Regions from separate parts of the Homo sapiens genome. Here all the other regions are linked to region 2. Evidence: fine-mapped expression QTL. A gene starts in region 2. Each other region holds a variant in brackets. All regions are shown on one strand. Distances are from middle to middle.

Region 1 (5,651 bases), 52 kb before region 2:
TATTCTGTTAAATAGTATGTTGACATTTGCTAAAGGATTAATTTTCAGGAAACTAAGGGTGTTCCTCAAATTACATAAAACCATTCAGATTATTTATTTGAACATTTCTAGAACTGTCACCACATCTGGACAATTTATATAATTATGAAGTACTTTTAAATGGCTAAATTCCTTTATAGCTATTTTATCACCCATTAACTGGACTATAAAAACCCTGAAGAAATCAGCATAGAACTGATCCAACTGGCCCCAGAAAAAGTGTAAAGGGCTATGCTCATACTGTGTTCCCAAATCACTTTTTGTGTTTGACATGTGATTAACTGCTTCTGTTTACTTTCTATACTTTTCAAAGGGGCAGAGGCACTCATGAGAAACTGTTTCCACAGGTGGAAACCATCGGTGATGCGTACATGGTGGCTAGTGGTTTGCCTAAGAGAAATGGCAATCGGCATGCAATAGACATTGCCAAGATGGCCTTGGAAATCCTCAGCTTCATGGGGACCTTTGAGCTGGAGCATCTTCCTGGCCTCCCAATATGGATTCGCATTGGAGTTCACTCTGGTATGGAGTTGAGCATCTTAGCAAATTGGGAACCATATGTACTGCTGTGCACCAACTAAATCAGAAAGGATAAAAGGTCTTCAAGTGTGATCGACCTCACATAATTTTTACTCTTAATTCTTTTTGCCAAATGTGAGGTCCCACTATGCATCCTGAGATATTTAGACCCAGTTCCTAGAGAACTCTAAGAACAAGACCTTTGAGGGCACCACTGACTGCTGACATGATAAACACCAAACATGTACGAAAACAAGAAGCTTTGGACTCCTATTTAAATCACCATACCTATGATTTCATTTATTTCCTCCCCATTCCCTTTCTCCCCACCCCCAACTTCAATATATTTTCCCACTAAAATATTATAGTATCTTAAGTGGATTAGATTATCTACAAGGGGAAATAAAGAACAGATGGTGAAATTTCTATAATATTTATACCCCCTCCCTTCCCTGCCACTGCAGTTATACAGAAAGTACATGAGTCACTTTCAAAGACCATGAAAGTTACATAGCCTTGTTAAAAGAAAAGCTTATGCATATTAAATTTAACACAGTTTGATTGAGCAAAGAATAATTTTCAAATCAGATGGCCCTTAAAACCAGAAGAGGTTCAGAGAGCTTCAATGGGCAAGGTGGGCGGGCAATGTTTATAGACAGAAAACAGAAGTGAGGGACAGAAACAACTTGATTGGTCAAACCTCTGTGTTCCCCTGATTTGGTCAAAGTCCCATCAGTTGACAGCCTGTGACTGGCTGAAGCTCAGCTACTGCGATTGGCTGAGACTCAGCTATCTATAACGTAAGTATACCCTAGTTAGGCTTTTAGTTTGTTTATGTACCAAGCTAGGTTGCAGTTTGTTTTGTAGGGACCCCTAAGAGGCAGCCTCAGGCCAAACTTAGTTTAATTCAACAGCCTTGAACATCAAGGTTTGAGATGAGTTACAGGTGTTATAGAAAAAACACCTGTAAGAGAGGAACTCAGAAGTCATCTAGATGAATCTTTAGCCAGGCATTGCTTAAAACTCAGCTTTGCAGTTTTTGAGTTAATCTTTAACTTCTGAAACTGTTAACACCTTGCACTCAGTCATTCTATGCAAATACATGACTGAATAACCCTTATTTCCTACCTAATATGCCACAGCGCATAGTCTAGCCTGGGCTTTTGTTCTGCTTGTTGGAACCTCCTTGTGCCACAGGCTTCCCCATCCAGCTGCATTCGCCTGGTCCATGAAATGCTTACGGAAAGTTATGCCTTTGTCTTGTCTTCTGTCTTCCATTGTCATGGCACCAATCCCAGAAATGCCACCTTAAAATAAAAATAAAACAAACTTGAGCCATTGAAGCTTCAAATCTACAGTGCCCTCCAGCAGTGTGAAATTCAGGGTTGTGTGGTTTGGCACAGTAAGCAAGCAGTGGGGCTCATCTTCATCCTTCCTGAGAGCCTTCTATTTAAAATCACCTTTGTGATCTGGATCTCTGAATGCCTTCCTATTTGCTACAAATGTCGTTTTCTTTGCGAGAGCAAAATACTTTATGATCGCATGCATTGAATAATGATGCTTCATTGGATTCATCCATTTAAACCAAAAGTCCCAGCTCACATTTCACATCCTCAGCTACTTCTCCATGACAGGAAGTATTCAGGATTGTGACCATACAGAGAGGCTTACCTGTCTTCACTCTACTCTGCAATTTCTATTGCCTCCACTTCCTGCTTTCTGTCCTTCATTTCAGGTCCCTGTGCTGCTGGAGTTGTGGGAATCAAGATGCCTCGTTATTGTCTATTTGGAGATACGGTCAACACAGCCTCTAGGATGGAATCCACTGGCCTCCGTAAGAAGGGAGACTGTTTTTCTCAGAGGACAAAGATGCTGTTTTCCAGCAGAGGGCAACTGTGAGATAAAATGCACAATAAGGAGATACAAAGTGCCAGTGAGATGTAGAATAATTCTTCACATTAGCTGAACACAAACCCGTGTCAATCCACCTTTTGCTACATTTGCTTTCATTGTTGTTTACTGATAATTATTTTATTCTTCCACTTTTGCTCAGTTTTAGACTATTTCTATATTTTTGGCTCATATACAATGAATCTGGGGATATTCTACTTAGAATAGTCCTGGCATTTACCATAGATTCATGAAAGTTAAAAAAAAATCAGTAGGCAAGGTAAGAACTACACACTCTGGTTCACATTCCTGTTTCCCTCTTATTTGGTTTTGCTTTTTTGTTGTTGTTTTTTAGAGACAGGCTCTCGTTCTGTCACCCAGGCTGGAGTGCAGTGACACGATCATAGCTCCCTGTAAACTTGAACTCCTGGGCTCAAGTGATCCTCCCACCTCATCCTCCCAAGTACCTGGGACTACAGGAACATACCAGCACATCCAGATAATTTTTAAATTTTTAATAGAGACTGGGTCTCACTATGTTGCCCAGGCTGGTCTCAAACTCCTGACCTCAAGGAGTCCTTCCACCTTGGCCTCCCAAAGCATATTCGTTTTTTCTGGAAATTGATTTTTGTTTATTTGTTTGAGATGGGGTCTCACTCTGTCGCCTAGGCTTTGGCACAGTGGCACAATCACAGCTCACTGCATCCTTGAACTCCTCAGCTCTAGTGATCCTCCCACCTCAGCCTCCTAAGTAGCTGGGACTACAGGCATGCCACCATGCACAGCTAATTTTTTAATTTTTTCTGTAGAGGTGTGGTCTCTCTATGTTGTCTAGGCTGGTCACAGATTCCTGGGCTCAAGCAAGTCTCCTGCCTTGGTCCCCCAAAGCCCCAAAGTGTTGGAATTACAGGCAAGAGCCATCATACCCAACCAAGAATTGATTTTAGTAAAGAAAAATCTAAGCATTTGTTATATAC[G/A]AAGGAATATATTGCATTTGCTTGGCAAGGTAGAGGCACAATGTGCTGCATGAAGTAGATGCTCAATAAATATTGATGACAGTGGTAGCAGTAGAAATATATAGAAGAGAGAAAATAAGCACTGGGAGACATGGCTGGGGCTTACGAAACCACAGGAGGCAGGATGGTATTTTGGTAGTGTACTGACAATGTGATACTAGTTTGTCCTGGCAAATCATGCTGGCAAGGAAAAGGATAAGGTTGGGGTCAGACAGACTTGGGTTACAATTGAAATTATGTTAATCATTCTCAGTATAAGTTGAGTAGAAAGCTACCTGATCCTTCTAGCCCTCAGAAAGATAAAGATACAAATTGAAAATGGAATACCAACCGTGCCAAGAGGGTTTCTGAAATAATTTGGGATGATGTCATGTTAAGCGTTTAGCAATCATGGTACATGGTAGGTATACAATTTGGGATTGTCATTATTCTTACTGTGTAATTGTTTGTGGTATTGCTATTAGGCCCCTATATTGGGAAAGGTGATACACATCAATGGACTTGTGAATGGGCGTGCCCTCACCACTTCTTTTGTCAAAGGATAACAATGTTCCAGAAGAAGGAAATTTGAGAAAATCAAGACCCCTCAACTCTCCCGAATCTTCACCTTGCCCACAAGGCTTTAGCTATTTATTGGAACTTTTCCACAGGGACCCAAAACCAAACTCCAACACCCAAGCTTGGCACTACAAGCCAAATCTAAAACTAGGTCCCGCAGGCTACTACTCTGAGCTGGAATGAGAATCTATGGAGAAAAACCTAGGGATCCCCATCACATCACGCAGGGCCCTGAAAACTGATGCCAGGCCTTCTTTCTTCCCACGTGAGATTATATTTCTTGTGTGAGGGCATTCTTGCATTGCTATAAAGAAAAACCTGAGACTGGGTTATTTATAAGAAAAGAGGTTTAATTGGCTCATGGTTCTGCAGGCTGTAAGGGAAGAATAGCACCTGCATCTGCTTCTGGGGAGGCCTCAGGAAGCTTTCACTCATGGCAGAAGACAAAGCAGGAGCAGGCACTTCATACAGCAAAAGCAGGAGTAAGAAAGAGAGTGGCAGGGGCAGGTGCCACACCTTTTTAAATGACCAGATCTTGTGACAACTCAGTATCGCAAAGACAGCACCAAGCCATGAGGGATCCACCCCTGTGACCCAGACACCTGGTCGGGGGCCAGGACTCCAGCACTGGGGATTAAAATTCAACATGAGATTTGGGTGGGGACAAATATCCAAACTATACCATTTCTTATCTCTCTGATGTTATTTTTAAGTGTTCTTTCATTAAAATAGCCACAATTGTTTCTTCTTGATTTAGGATTCTTGTCTCAGGTGTTGTTGATATCCTGAATCAACGGGAAACAAATAGGCTGTGTACTAGCTGGGATTTTTATTTGTCAATTTGCATTTCCAGCTTTGAGAATTCACGTGAGTGGCTCCACCATAGCCATCCTGAAGAGAACTGAGTGCCAGTTCCTTTATGAAGTGAGAGGAGAAACATACTTAAAGGTAAGGAGTCCACAGAGACAATGCATAGGAAAAGCTCTCAGACACGCTTGGGCCACCTCCTTTGAGACTTGGCCAGGAAAGTTGAGCATGCTAATCCTCTTCTGTACTCATCACGATGAGCACCCTCCATCCTCTGCAAGAGAAATGACCACCAAAAAATGTGAACTCAAAACTTGCCTTTACTCCAAAGAGCCCTTTTGAGATTTTGAACTCTGCCAGCATTTCCTCTGCCATATCCAGGTTTTGTATCCAGTTCCTCCTCCAAACACAAGAGCTACATACAGTCTGGTCCAGGACTTATTTAATTTGAATCAAAACCCTTGTCCCCCCACTTACTTCCCTACTCTTACTACACACTGCTGCTATGATCTGAGGTCACCTCTCTTGCCAGTTGCTTTACTATTCGGAAGCTCTAGAATCACAAGGAGTGAATGACAAGGTGTGGCCCCATTCTCCTCCTCTTCCTCATCTGGAAGCTTGTTAAAATGCAGATGTGTGGACACTCTACCAGGCCTACTATGCAAGATTCTCTGTGGGCGTAGATCAGAAATCTATATTTTTAACAAGATAATGTGTTTGTGACCACACTAATATTTGAGAATCGCTATTCCAGATTCTTCATGCAGTTCCTCACATTTAAAACAGCTGCCCTCCATAGCCATCAGTTGTCTCCAAATGCTT
Region 2 (5,651 bases):
TTCAATGGGGGTGCCACTAGCATCCAGTAGGTAAAGGCCAAGGGGTGTCCAGGACAACCCCCCCACAACAAAGAGTTGTCTGCTCCAAAATTTCAATAGTGCTGATGTGGAGAAGTCCTGATCCAATTAATTTGTTTATATGTATAATTTGCTCCCCACTACTGGAATGCAAGCTCTGCAAGGGCAGGGACTTTGTTTTGTCTACTGCTCTGTGCTTGGAACATGGGAGTCAACGAATATTTGATGACAAATAATAGATGAATGAATGCCTCAAGGTTCACATTAGGCATTTATATGCATCTTACTTCATCAGAACACTTGGCTCCTTGGATCAGAAGGGTTAGTAAGGTGAAGGAGGGTGGTATAGGGCAATATGACTCAAATATTTGGGGTGGCACCACTTCCTTGAACATCCTAATGTGGTTCTCTTCCCATCATAACACAACCAAAATTTTCATTTTTGGTTCATTTTAATTTTCTAACTTGAAGGAAAATGTGCAACTTTTACAATGTCCTCGATGTCTTCATTTTAATTTTTCTTCATTTAAATTTTCTAACGAAGGAAAATGTGCAACTTTTACAATGTCCTCGATGTCTTCGTTTTAATTTTTCTTCATTTTAATTTTCTAACTTGAAGGAAAATGTGCAACTTTTACAATGTCCTCGATGTCTTCATTCATTAAATGCCATTAAACATAATTGTGACTTTAATTTTAATTAAATAAAAATGAGTTGGAGTCTCCCTGTGTGGCACAGGCTTGTCTTGAACTTTTGGGCTCCGGTGATCCTCCCACCTTGGCCTCCCAAAGTGTTGGGATTACAGGCATGAGCCATGGTGCCTGGACCACAAAATTGTGACTTGTGTTTCACAATTTGCACAGAGATTTGATGAACTTTTAGGTTCTTTATCTTTTCTAACAATTACATTTTCCCCGTTATGAAAGGTACTGCTTATTCTCTCTTCTCATCTCTCCTTGACACCTAGGTTAAGCTTAGAAGAAAGGCCAAGAGGAAGAGTGGGGTGCTGAGGTTCCCATCTGAGAGGTGGCTTGTTCCCTCCTTCCCCCTCTCCCACTGCACCTTAAACATAGCTCTAACACAGTAGAATGGCAAGTTCTGTGTACTTGTTTATCTATATGGCTTAGTTCTTTTTTAAAAAAATTATTATTGTTATTATTATTATTTTTTTTTGAGACGAATCTCGCTCTGTCGCCCAGGCTGGAGTAGAGTGGCGCGATCTCGGCTCACTGCAAGCTCCGCCTCCCGGGTTTACGCCATTCTCCTGCGTCAGCCTCCCAAGTAGCTGGACTACAGGCGCCCGCCACCGTGTCCGACTAATTTTTTGTATTTTTAGTAGAGACGGGGTTTCACCGTGTTAGCCAGGATGGCCTCGATATCCTGACCTCGTGATCTGCCCGCCTCGGCCTCCCAAAGTGCTGGGATTACAGGCGTGAGCCACGGCGCCCGGCTGGCTTAGTTCTTTTTGTCTGTGGTGAGGCATGCTCTTAGCTGTCTTTATATCACTGGTATCTGGAGTATAAGATGGGCCCAGCCAATGCTGAGTGAATGAATGAAATGCCTTTTGCCTACTTCACAATGTCACCTAGGGCACCCGGTGCCAACTTCACAATATCACCCAAGGCATAACTTTTGACTACTTCACAATGTCACTTTTAACTGACCCCACACAGAAATGGGGACTCCACAGAAACGTAGGAGTGTGTCTAGTGTCAGCCCCGTCTGAATCACTCTCCTGTGGTGGCTCCAGCCAACGAAGAGGAAGCAAAAAGGATAAAAAATCTGAGCTACAGCGCATGGATTTAGGTTAAACAGCCTGGGAATGAGGGGTACGCTAATCGCTGAGGAAAACGCACCTGTGGAGGCCTCTCCAGAAACAGCAGAGGATCCGAGCTGCGTGTAGGCAGGGCGCGCATGTCACCCTGGCCCGGGCGCCTGGTCCGCTGCTGGAGATAAATGGTCGACCCCGGAGGGAGAGGCTAGTAGGGGTGTTGATGTGAACTGATTCGCCCAAGCCTTGGGCCGCAAAACTGCGAAAGAAAGCGGCAGGCAGCCTCTGCATTTCCCAGAAGTGCAGCTGGGGAACTTTCCCAGACCGGCCCAGGGGTTGCTAGAGGGTCAGACGTAAAGGATCCGCCTTTCCTAGGCGGGGTGGGCCCCAGGCCACCACGTGAAGCGTCCTCGCCCCTCAGAGCCCGGAGCAGGCCGGGCTCAAGAAAGAGGAAAGTTGAGGACGCCCCACCTCGGAGAGGCGGCGCCCCTGAGTAGGCCAGGAGCCTCTCTTGCAACTTCTGCCACCGCGGGCCACCGCGGCCGCCTGATCCCGCAGAGGAAGGTCGCGGCCGTGGAGCGATGACCCGCGGCGGTCCGGGCGGGCGCCCGGGGCTGCCACAGCCGCCACCGCTTCTGCTGCTGCTGCTGCTGCTGCCGCTGTTGTTAGTCACCGCGGAGCCGCCGAAACCTGCAGGTGAGCAGAGCGCGCCCTGGGCGGGGGGCGCCCGGGGAGGCTCCTAGGAGCCTGTTAGCGCCCGTGCCCCGCGTCCGGCCGAGTTGACGTCCAGCGGGCGTCTGGTTCCTGGGTGAACTCAGAGAAACGCGCCTCCGGCCGGCGGTCTCGCTCCAGCCCTGCGGCTGCGCAGCGAGGGCACTTGAGAAGGGCATGGCGAGTGCGTCTGCCAACTTTACAAGTTTTGGCCCGAATTCTTGGCCAACAAATCGGTTCGCTCCTGCGCCGATTCTTGGCCCACAGAGCCTGGGCTGGTCTTAAAAACTCCAGCCAATGGGCATCTAAATATATTTATCCAGATTGTAGGGAGGTATGGTTCCGGCTTGCCATTTGTTTTGTGTTTTAAAAATTTACATTGACTTTGGCTTAAAATCACGATTGCACGATTGTCAGTTTGATACGTGCCTGGCAGTGGGCTTAAGGGCCTTTTGGTTTTGTTGTTGTTGTTGAGACAGAGTCGCTCTCTGTGGGCGACGCTGGAGTGCAATGGTGTGATCTCGGCTCACTGCAACTTCCGCCTCCCGGGTTCAAGCGATTCTCCTCCCTCAGCTTCCCAAGTAGCTGGGATTACAGGCGTCAGCCACCATGCCCAGCTAATTTGTGCATTATTAGTAGAGACGAGGTTTCACCATGTTGGACAGGCTGGTCTCGAACGCCTGACTCGGGCGATCCGCCTGCCTCGGCCTCCCAAAGTGCTGGGATTACAGGCATGAGCCACCGCGCCCGGCAGTTTTTTTTTTTTTTTTTTAATATATAATCCTAAATAGGATTATATTCCCCATTCTGCAGATGAGAAAAGTGAGATTGATCAGAAGTAATTCGCATAAAGATAACACAGCAAATAAGACAGAGTTAGGGGATGCCAGAGGGCATTTTCTTAACTACTTCCCTCTTGGAAAAACAGGTTTTATCTCTACAGGTATTCATGCAAATCTACATCCTTTGCCAAAATTAAATTAAATTAAATTAAAAAGCCTTGGATTTATGATTTCCGTTCCTAAGGAGGTGAAGATTATGAACTGTAACTAAGGGACTTGAAAGAATTCTAAAGTAATAATAAGAGAATTAATTTTGTCTTATTTCATAATCCCCTTTTCTGTGCTGACCTTGTACAAGAGTAGGGTGGGGCTTGGGGGAGGATGCCCCTTCCTAAATATGTGTACTGATTCTTATTACACTACCTTCCATCATCAAGAGCCTTCGTTTTTGAGACTTGCTTAGTTATCACTCTTCAATCTTAAATCTTTCCAGTCTGTGGGATCAGATGTACCCACAGGCTCCTGACTCGTGATTTTCTGTGTTCTTTGCCTAAACTATGGAGGTGGCCTTGGTGTCTACTTCTAGTCTAGGGAGACAGCTCATTCAGAGGTACCTGGGGGAGGCTGGGGAGGGTCCCAAAAGTGGAGGTAGCTTTTGTGTTTGGAATGCTGGCTAAAATCTTTATTCCTTTTCTGTTTTTTTGGACGAGTGAGATTAAGTGTTTTTGTAGGTGGAGGGGGCAGCCTGAGGAGTGAGACAGGCGTTGTTTTTCTGAAGATGGAGCACTATTTATTCAAGAAGGTACCACCTTGTAAGAAACTGCATCTTAAACAGTTCCTCCAACAGGAAGCTGACTCCATGCTTGGAGGTTCTGGAGCCAAGGCAGAAAGTAAGGACATTTCTGAGATGAAGTGATCCTGACAGCACCATGCCCAGCAATCTGGAAAGGATTCTTACTTACCTAGGTGTTAAGGACATCTGGTGATGCCACACTATTTCAGCAGATGAGATCTCTGTTTCCTTTGTCCTACCCACATTAATCTGTTTTCCCTTGAGGCTTTTTGGGTCTTTGTCTTTACCCTTCTACTAGCCTGCGAACAACCAAAGAGTAAAGAACTGGGACTTGCTACCTCTCACTTGTCATGTGTTCTCTGAAGTACCCAGCTCAGTACCCTGAACTTAGTAGGAATTCAGTAAACACTAAAGGGATTGCATGTCCATCCCCTTGGAATGGATTTTATATCCACTCATATGCATCTATCTATCCAAAAACAACTTCTTCAATTTTTAATTTTACTTTTTTTTTTTTTTACTATTATTTCCTATTATTTTTATTTTCCCCCCAGGCTGGGTACAGTGGCGTGATCTCGGCTCACTGCAACCTCCACCTCTTTGGTTCAAGCAATTCTCCTGACTCAGCCTCCCGAGTAGCTGGGATTACAGGCACACACCACCACGCCCAGCTAATTTTTATATTTTTTGTAGAGATGGGATTTCAACAGGTTGGACAGACTAGTCTCGAACTCCTGGCCTCAGGTGATCTGCCCGCCTCAGCCTCCCAAAGTGCAGGGATTACAGGTGTGAGCTACCATGCCCGGACACTTTTAGTTAATTCTTGCATATTCTTCAATTTGTAAAGGTTACTCTATAGTTTTATTATTCCAGAAGTTGACAAATAATTGCACAGTCATTCTAGCCAAATCTTTCAAGCTATGATTTCAGACATATGGTGTTGCGTTTATCTTTCCAGACCAAAAGCCCCATAATTGATTTTAGAAGGTCCTTATATAATTTTTTCTAAGTGGTATGTATAGAGAAGTCAGGTGGTCACTAGAGAAATAAATCATACCTTTATCTGGTTCTGAAAAAGTTTAACATCTTGGAAGTCATTCAGTCTCCATAAGGTGATTTGGCAGACCTATGATTGGAGTCAGTTTCAGTTGATCCTTTAACTCTGCAGACATTCTTTTAGGGTTGGCTGCTGAGAGACTCATAATATGGTATGTATATTGGTAAAACTGGTTCAGAATCTGGCCCTCGGCCTTGCAGGGCTAGACTCCAGAAATTCAGTCTTTCTACTGCTCCATATCTGATCACAGCTAAGAAAGCTGATTCACCCTGATATACACCCAAGTCTATTCATCAGACTTAGCATAATTTTTAGTTAGAAATATAACTGTCAGGCAGACTGGATATTTGTGAGGTCTGCTCTAGGCACTTTCTCACTGTAATCAAACCACATGGGGGTAGATAACATCACAGATTGTCAGGCTGGAGGCCTGATTTGTCTGTCTCCTGGTAGGCATCATACACTTGAGTCAGCCGAGAGAGTGCCCCTCCACTGCATGGTGCTTGCCTAGCATTGCTG
Region 3 (5,651 bases), 36 kb after region 2:
ATGGGATCTTGCTACATTCCCCAGGCTGGTCTTAAGCTCCTGGGTTCAAGTGGTCCTCCAGCCTCAGCCTCCCAAAGTGCTGGGATTAAGGTGTGAGCAATCATGTCCGGCCCCTATCAGGAATTCTGACCAAGGGCATAACCCAGTATTTCTCTGTCCTTGTGACCTGATCCTTTCTTTGAAACCAATTTGATTTCATCTTTGTCTTAGTTTGCTTAGTTGTTTTAGCATTGAGGGGGACTGGGGACTCCTCTCTCTGAGTTAGACTGTGCTTTGATTCTTTCACATTCTATTACACTGACATTTAAGGACAGCAAGAGACAGAGCAGTCCAGTATTCTTCCTCTTCCTCATCTTTGTGATAAAATGCAATATTCAGATGTTATGTGCACTGCTTTGAAATCTCTGTGGAATACAATGCTCTCCAGTAGTGTTAACAGTCCTGGATCCCAGAGGTAGTGATGGAGAAGGTCATGGAAGATTTTCTTATGAAACGTATAATCCTGTTAACATTTGCATATGTATCCTTCCAGATGAGATACACAAGTAGATTTCATAGATAATATGTAGAGCTTTTTGGAGCAATTGAATCTCCAAGAGAGCAACAGACAGTTTTATATATACCCCAAAACATTTTTACAGGAGCCAATGGAACAGTGGGATTCATATTTTCTCTAACTGGGCAGCTTTGTTCTCAGCACCAAACAGGAAAACATGTGCAGTCTCATTTATGTTACAACTTATTTTATTAAGGGACCAGCCACATTGGATTCATCCAGTAGACATGACATAGAACTATGCTTTACGATGAAGCTCATGCCATCTTAGCTGCTGAGTCCAGAACAAAGCTGGATGGCTTCCTTGTTTTTCTTTGATGGAGTTGTTTAACAGGCTTGGTCTTTTTTAGTCTTTTCTAAAATACAAAGTGGAGATTGAGGAAATTATTTCACCTAAAGAGGCTAACATGCAATACCCAGGGAAGGTCAAAAGTATACCAAAGTATACCAGGTGCTGATAACCTCAGTACCACCCTTAGGTCTGGGCACAGGAACCCCACCCTCCCAGCTTGGAATTACCTTCATGAAAATTACCTAAATCCCCCTCCAGCATCCTGAGACTGGCCAGGCTGGCAGTATCTTGACCTGTGTCTCTGTGCATCTAGTTTAGAAAGCTCCTTTCCAGAAAATTTCAAAATCCCCTTCTAGTGCCCAAGACTGACCAAGGTGGCAGAGCCATCCAGGTCAGCTTCTCTGAGTCCAGAAAGCAACGCATGTGGACTCCCTATCTGGGGGCTCTTCTCCTCCATTCCTGCCCACGCATGGGTTCAACAAGATGCCCTAAGGAGCTCTGGGACTCAAGCCTATGGCCTGGTCCTGGTAAGCAGATTCCTCTAGTTGGCCCTCACAGTATATATTTTTTGCAAGATGGTGCATAACTGAGCTGTCAGAACGGTGGTCACACGATGACCTGGGGTGACTCTCATGTCAGAGCATATGTTCAGGGCTCTATGCTACTGAAAACCACCTCTTACCCTCGGGTTTCAGCATGCAGCAGGGGAGGACGGTAAAGCGAACTTCGACCTATGAGCTCCACATCTGGCCCCTGTCGTGGCCTCCTCACCCCTGCAGCTCTGTACCATGTGTCGGTCAGTCCTTGGGGCGGGCTAGGCCTGGCCCCTCTGAGGCCTTTTGAGAACCTTGCTCCACAACACAAACGGGCCTTTGCAGCAAATCTTTTGCTGCAGTTGGTGATGTGACTTCCTACTGTCTTGGGTCAGTCTTAAGCCAGATGGATTTTTCTGGTGTGATTGGGACAGCTCTTCCAGCTCGACTTATAGGCTTCTCACCTATCCTACCCACTGGTGCCCGTGGGTGAGGAGTGAAGGTGGGGGAGGGTTCAGCATGAAAAGAGATTTGACTCATGAAGACTTGACTTAAATTGTGAAGCCTTAAATTATGAAAACTTTACTTAAATTTTCCTGGGGCTTTTAGCCTGTTCTTTTATCTTTTTATGTACCTACTTTCAAATACATGCACTTAACATTTAAACAGGCTAAGCAGGCTCATGCCTGTAATCCCAGCAATTTAGGAGGCCAGGGTGGGCGGATTATCTTGAGCTCAGGAGTTTGAGACCTGGGCAACATGGCAAGAGCCCGTCTCTGCAAAAATACAAAAAAATCAGCCGAGTGTTGGTAGCTCATGCCTGTAATCCCAGCTATTTGGGAGGCTGAGGCTGAAGAACAGCTTGAGCCCTGGAAGCAGAGGTTGCAGGGAGCCGAGATAGCACCACTGCACTTCAGCTTGGGGGACAGAGTGAGGCCTCGTCTCAAGAACAACAACAAAGAGATTACATTCTAGGGAGGCAGCAATTAGCCTGAAGAGTCCAACAGAAAACATGTCGATCTATGTTTACACTGTAAAATTCCCAGTGTAGCTTTAGTAACCATAAAACAAATTATCATTCACAATTTTTTTAACACTCTGGGTAAGGCTTGCATTTGTGGTCATCATTAACAAAGCATAATAAGGATTTTTGAGTCATTAGAAGCCAGGATTCACAGGTAGAGTGGTAGATGTCGCAAAGTCATTAAGAAAATGGTGTTAGGGAACTGCAGAGGCAAGGAGATCTGTGTTGTTTCAAAACAAACAGGTTCCA[A/G]AAAGTCATGGTTTTGTAATAACAGTATTGCTACCTTTTTCTCATAACAAAAAATAGGAAATTAGCCAAGAACAATGCATTTAATAATAAAGAATACAAAGAGATGGTACCTGGATACTGTAACAAATCTTCACGTGCACTGATTGGACAATAGACAAAACAGATTGCCTTTCTCTGCCCATCATCCTAAATCTTCAATGATAAATCATCATATCTCACATGTACTGATGAATTTTTAAATATATGTTTTTAATCAAATTGTTTATATAGGCAGGGGCCCTGTTAAAAAAGACAAACAAACAACAACAAAACAACAACAACAACAAAAAACACTTGCCTGAGGCACTGGATACCCAAAGGAAAGTGGCTTTGAATGGCCTTGTTCTAGGAGTTTCTGTCCCTAACAAGAAGGGTTTTGAATACATGGTCTGTTTGCCTAGTAACAGCTAAGGCTGAGTAAGGAATGGAGAAGCCTTGCACTAGCCCTCCCCACACATTTACTTATTTTGGCAATGCAAATTAATAATCAAGGAGGTAAGACAAAGAGATAAATCACTAGAAAATGACGGCACTGAAATGGCAGCCAATACAATTGTGTGAAGACCTCAGCACAAAGATCTGATAGTTTTAACCAATCCAGAGAAAATTTACTTGTCAACAACATTGAGTCTTCCAATCTACTAATATAATCTATTTGTTTATTTCAGTCTTTAATTTGAGTCATATCATGTAGTTTTCAGTATTTAGGTCTTACATACCTTTAAGTAAGTTAAATCCTAAGTAATGTTTGATGCTACTGTAATCAAAATGTTTTTTATTCTTTTTTCAGTTGTTTGTTGCTCATATGTATTTATTGGTTACCCATTGCCACATAACAAATTGCTCCAAACATTAGTGGCTAAAAACAATAATGATTTAGTTACTCATGGTTTCTGTGGATCAGGAATTTAGATAGGGCACAGTGGGGATAATTTGTCTCTACTGTGACTGGGGCCTCAGCTGGAAGACTCAATGACTGAGGGGCTAAAATCTCTGATAGCTTAACTGAGACTGGAACATGCACTTCCAAAACGACTTACTAACATAGCTGACAGGGTGGTGCTGGCAACTGGTTCCTCTTCACTTGGGCCTCTCCTCAGAACTGCTTGAATGTCCTTCATGGCAAGACCCCTGGCTCCAGACGAAGCCATCCAAAAGAACAAGGCAGAAATAGTAATGCCTATTGTGACCTCACCTCAGACGTCACACACGCTCACTTCCACCAGGTTCTATTAATTAGAAGCAAGGTGTTATGACCAGCCCACATTCAAGGAAAGGCGATTAGAATCCACCTTTTAAAGAGAAGGGTGCCAAAGAATTTGTGGAAATTTGAAAACTACCACAATGTATTACGATTTTTTTGTACATTATTATCCTGAGATCTTTCTAATAGCTTTTTTGTAGATTCCTTGGGATTTTCTATATATACAATCATGACATCTCTAAATAAAGACAGTTTGACTTCTTCCATCCCTTGTATGTCTTTGATTGTTTTTTTGTATGATTGTGCTGGAGAAGACCTCCAGAATAATGGAGACCATAAGTGGTGAGCATGCAAATCCTTGCCCAATTCCTGACCTAGGGTGAAAAGTATTGTCTTTCACCATTAAGTATGATGTTAACTGCAGATTTTTTGTAGATGCCCTTTATAATGTTAAGGAAGGTCCCTGCTCTTCCTACTTTCTTTAATATTTTTATCAATAAATGAGTGTTGCATTTTTCTGAATTCTTTCTCAGCAATTGTTGAAAAGATCATATGAATTTTTTCCTTTATTAATATGATAAGTTACATTGATTGATTTTCAGATGTTAAACCACTTGAAATTCCTGGGTTAATCCTCAGTCATGATGTGTTATTCTCTGTATTTATTTTTAGTTCAGTTTACTAACGTGTTAATGATTTTTTTCATTTACATTCATGAGACATATTTGTTTGTAGTCTGCTTTTCTTATGATGGTTTTTGTTTTAGGATAAGCTTATCCTCATATCCTAAATGTGGAATTATTTCTTTCTCCTAAGTGTTTTAAGAGCATGTATATGATTAGTGTTATTTTATTCTATTTATTTATTTATTTATTTATTTTTAAAGACAGGGTCTCACTCTGTCCCCCAGGCTGGAGTACAGTGGTGTGAACATAGCTCACTGCAGCCTCAAACACCTAGGCTCAAGTGATCCTCCTGCCTTGGTTTCCCAAAATGCTGAGATTACAGGTGTGAGCCACTGTGCCCAGCCCATTTTCTTCTTTAAGTGTTTAATAGAATTCACGCGTGAAGCTAGATATGAAGGTTTTTATTTGTTGAAAAGTTATTAATTGTAAATTTAATTTCTTTCACTGCTACAGAACTATTTCAGTTTTCTAACTCTTCTTGAGTTAGTTTTAAAAATGTATCTTTCAAGGAATTTATCCCTTCTTTCTAAGTTATTGTTTTTATTGATATGAAGCTATTTATAATGTTTTTCTTAACCTCTTAATGTCTGTAGGATCTGTAAAGTCCCCATTATCATTCATGATATTGTCCATTTTTCTTCTTTATTAAGATAAAATTTCCATTTTTATATTTATTTTCTTTCTTCTACTTACTTTGCATTTAATTTGTAATTTTTTCTAGCTTCTTAATGTAGAAGACTAGATAACTGATTTTGATCTTTCTATCATAAGCAAATAAAATGATAAATTTTCCAATAAGCACTACTTTTGGTGCATCTGACAAATTTTGGTATATTTTGTGTTCATTTTTATTCCATTTAGAATATTTTCTAATTTATCACGATTTATTTAATCCATAGCTTATTTGGAAGTGTATTGTTTAATTTCCAAAAATTTACAGATTTTTCAGATCTTTGTCACTGTTTTCCAATTTAATTGCATTTTCTAATTTATTCTGAGATCAGAGAGCATATTCTGTATGATTTCAAATTTTTTTAACTTTATTGAGACCTGTGTTATGGCTCAGCA

The links. PIP is the estimated chance that this variant, and not a neighbour inherited with it, causes the effect.
Region 1: its variant is fine-mapped to the expression of PLBD1-AS1 in whole blood (TOPMed, PIP above 0.99). The same link has a PIP of 0.9 or more in prefrontal cortex.
Region 3: its variant is fine-mapped to the expression of PLBD1-AS1 in whole blood (INTERVAL, PIP 0.98).

Annotation. Positions count from the first base shown.
Region 1 is chr12:14,615,952-14,621,602 of GRCh38, reverse strand. It overlaps GUCY2C (guanylate cyclase 2C), which reads left to right. Exons shown (of 27, transcript NM_004963.4): 23 at 387-561; 24 at 2,294-2,392; 25 at 4,876-4,970. PLBD1-AS1 (PLBD1 antisense RNA 1) reads right to left here. Exons shown (of 6, transcript NR_120465.1): 5 at 2,230-2,451; 6 at 1,848-1,865. Among named protein-coding and RNA genes, the nearest start is that of GUCY2C-AS1, 47 kb to the left of the region's middle. The variant G/A (reference allele first, on the strand shown) is at 3,426.
Region 2 is chr12:14,564,416-14,570,066 of GRCh38, reverse strand. It overlaps PLBD1-AS1 (PLBD1 antisense RNA 1), which reads right to left and starts at 2,335. Exons shown (of 6, transcript NR_120465.1): 1 at 2,261-2,335; 2 at 1,875-2,048. PLBD1 (phospholipase B domain containing 1) reads left to right here and starts at 2,184. Exons shown (of 11, transcript NM_024829.6): 1 at 2,184-2,485. The coding sequence starts at 2,371. RefSeq lists silencers at 2,314-2,423, 3,163-3,339 and an enhancer at 2,237-2,918.
Region 3 is chr12:14,528,324-14,533,974 of GRCh38, reverse strand. The region is part of intron 6 of PLBD1 (phospholipase B domain containing 1); the gene reads left to right. It overlaps PLBD1-AS2 (PLBD1 antisense RNA 2), which reads right to left and starts at 3,836. Exons shown (of 5, transcript NR_187784.1): 1 at 3,734-3,836; 2 at 2,765-2,933. The variant A/G (reference allele first, on the strand shown) is at 2,655.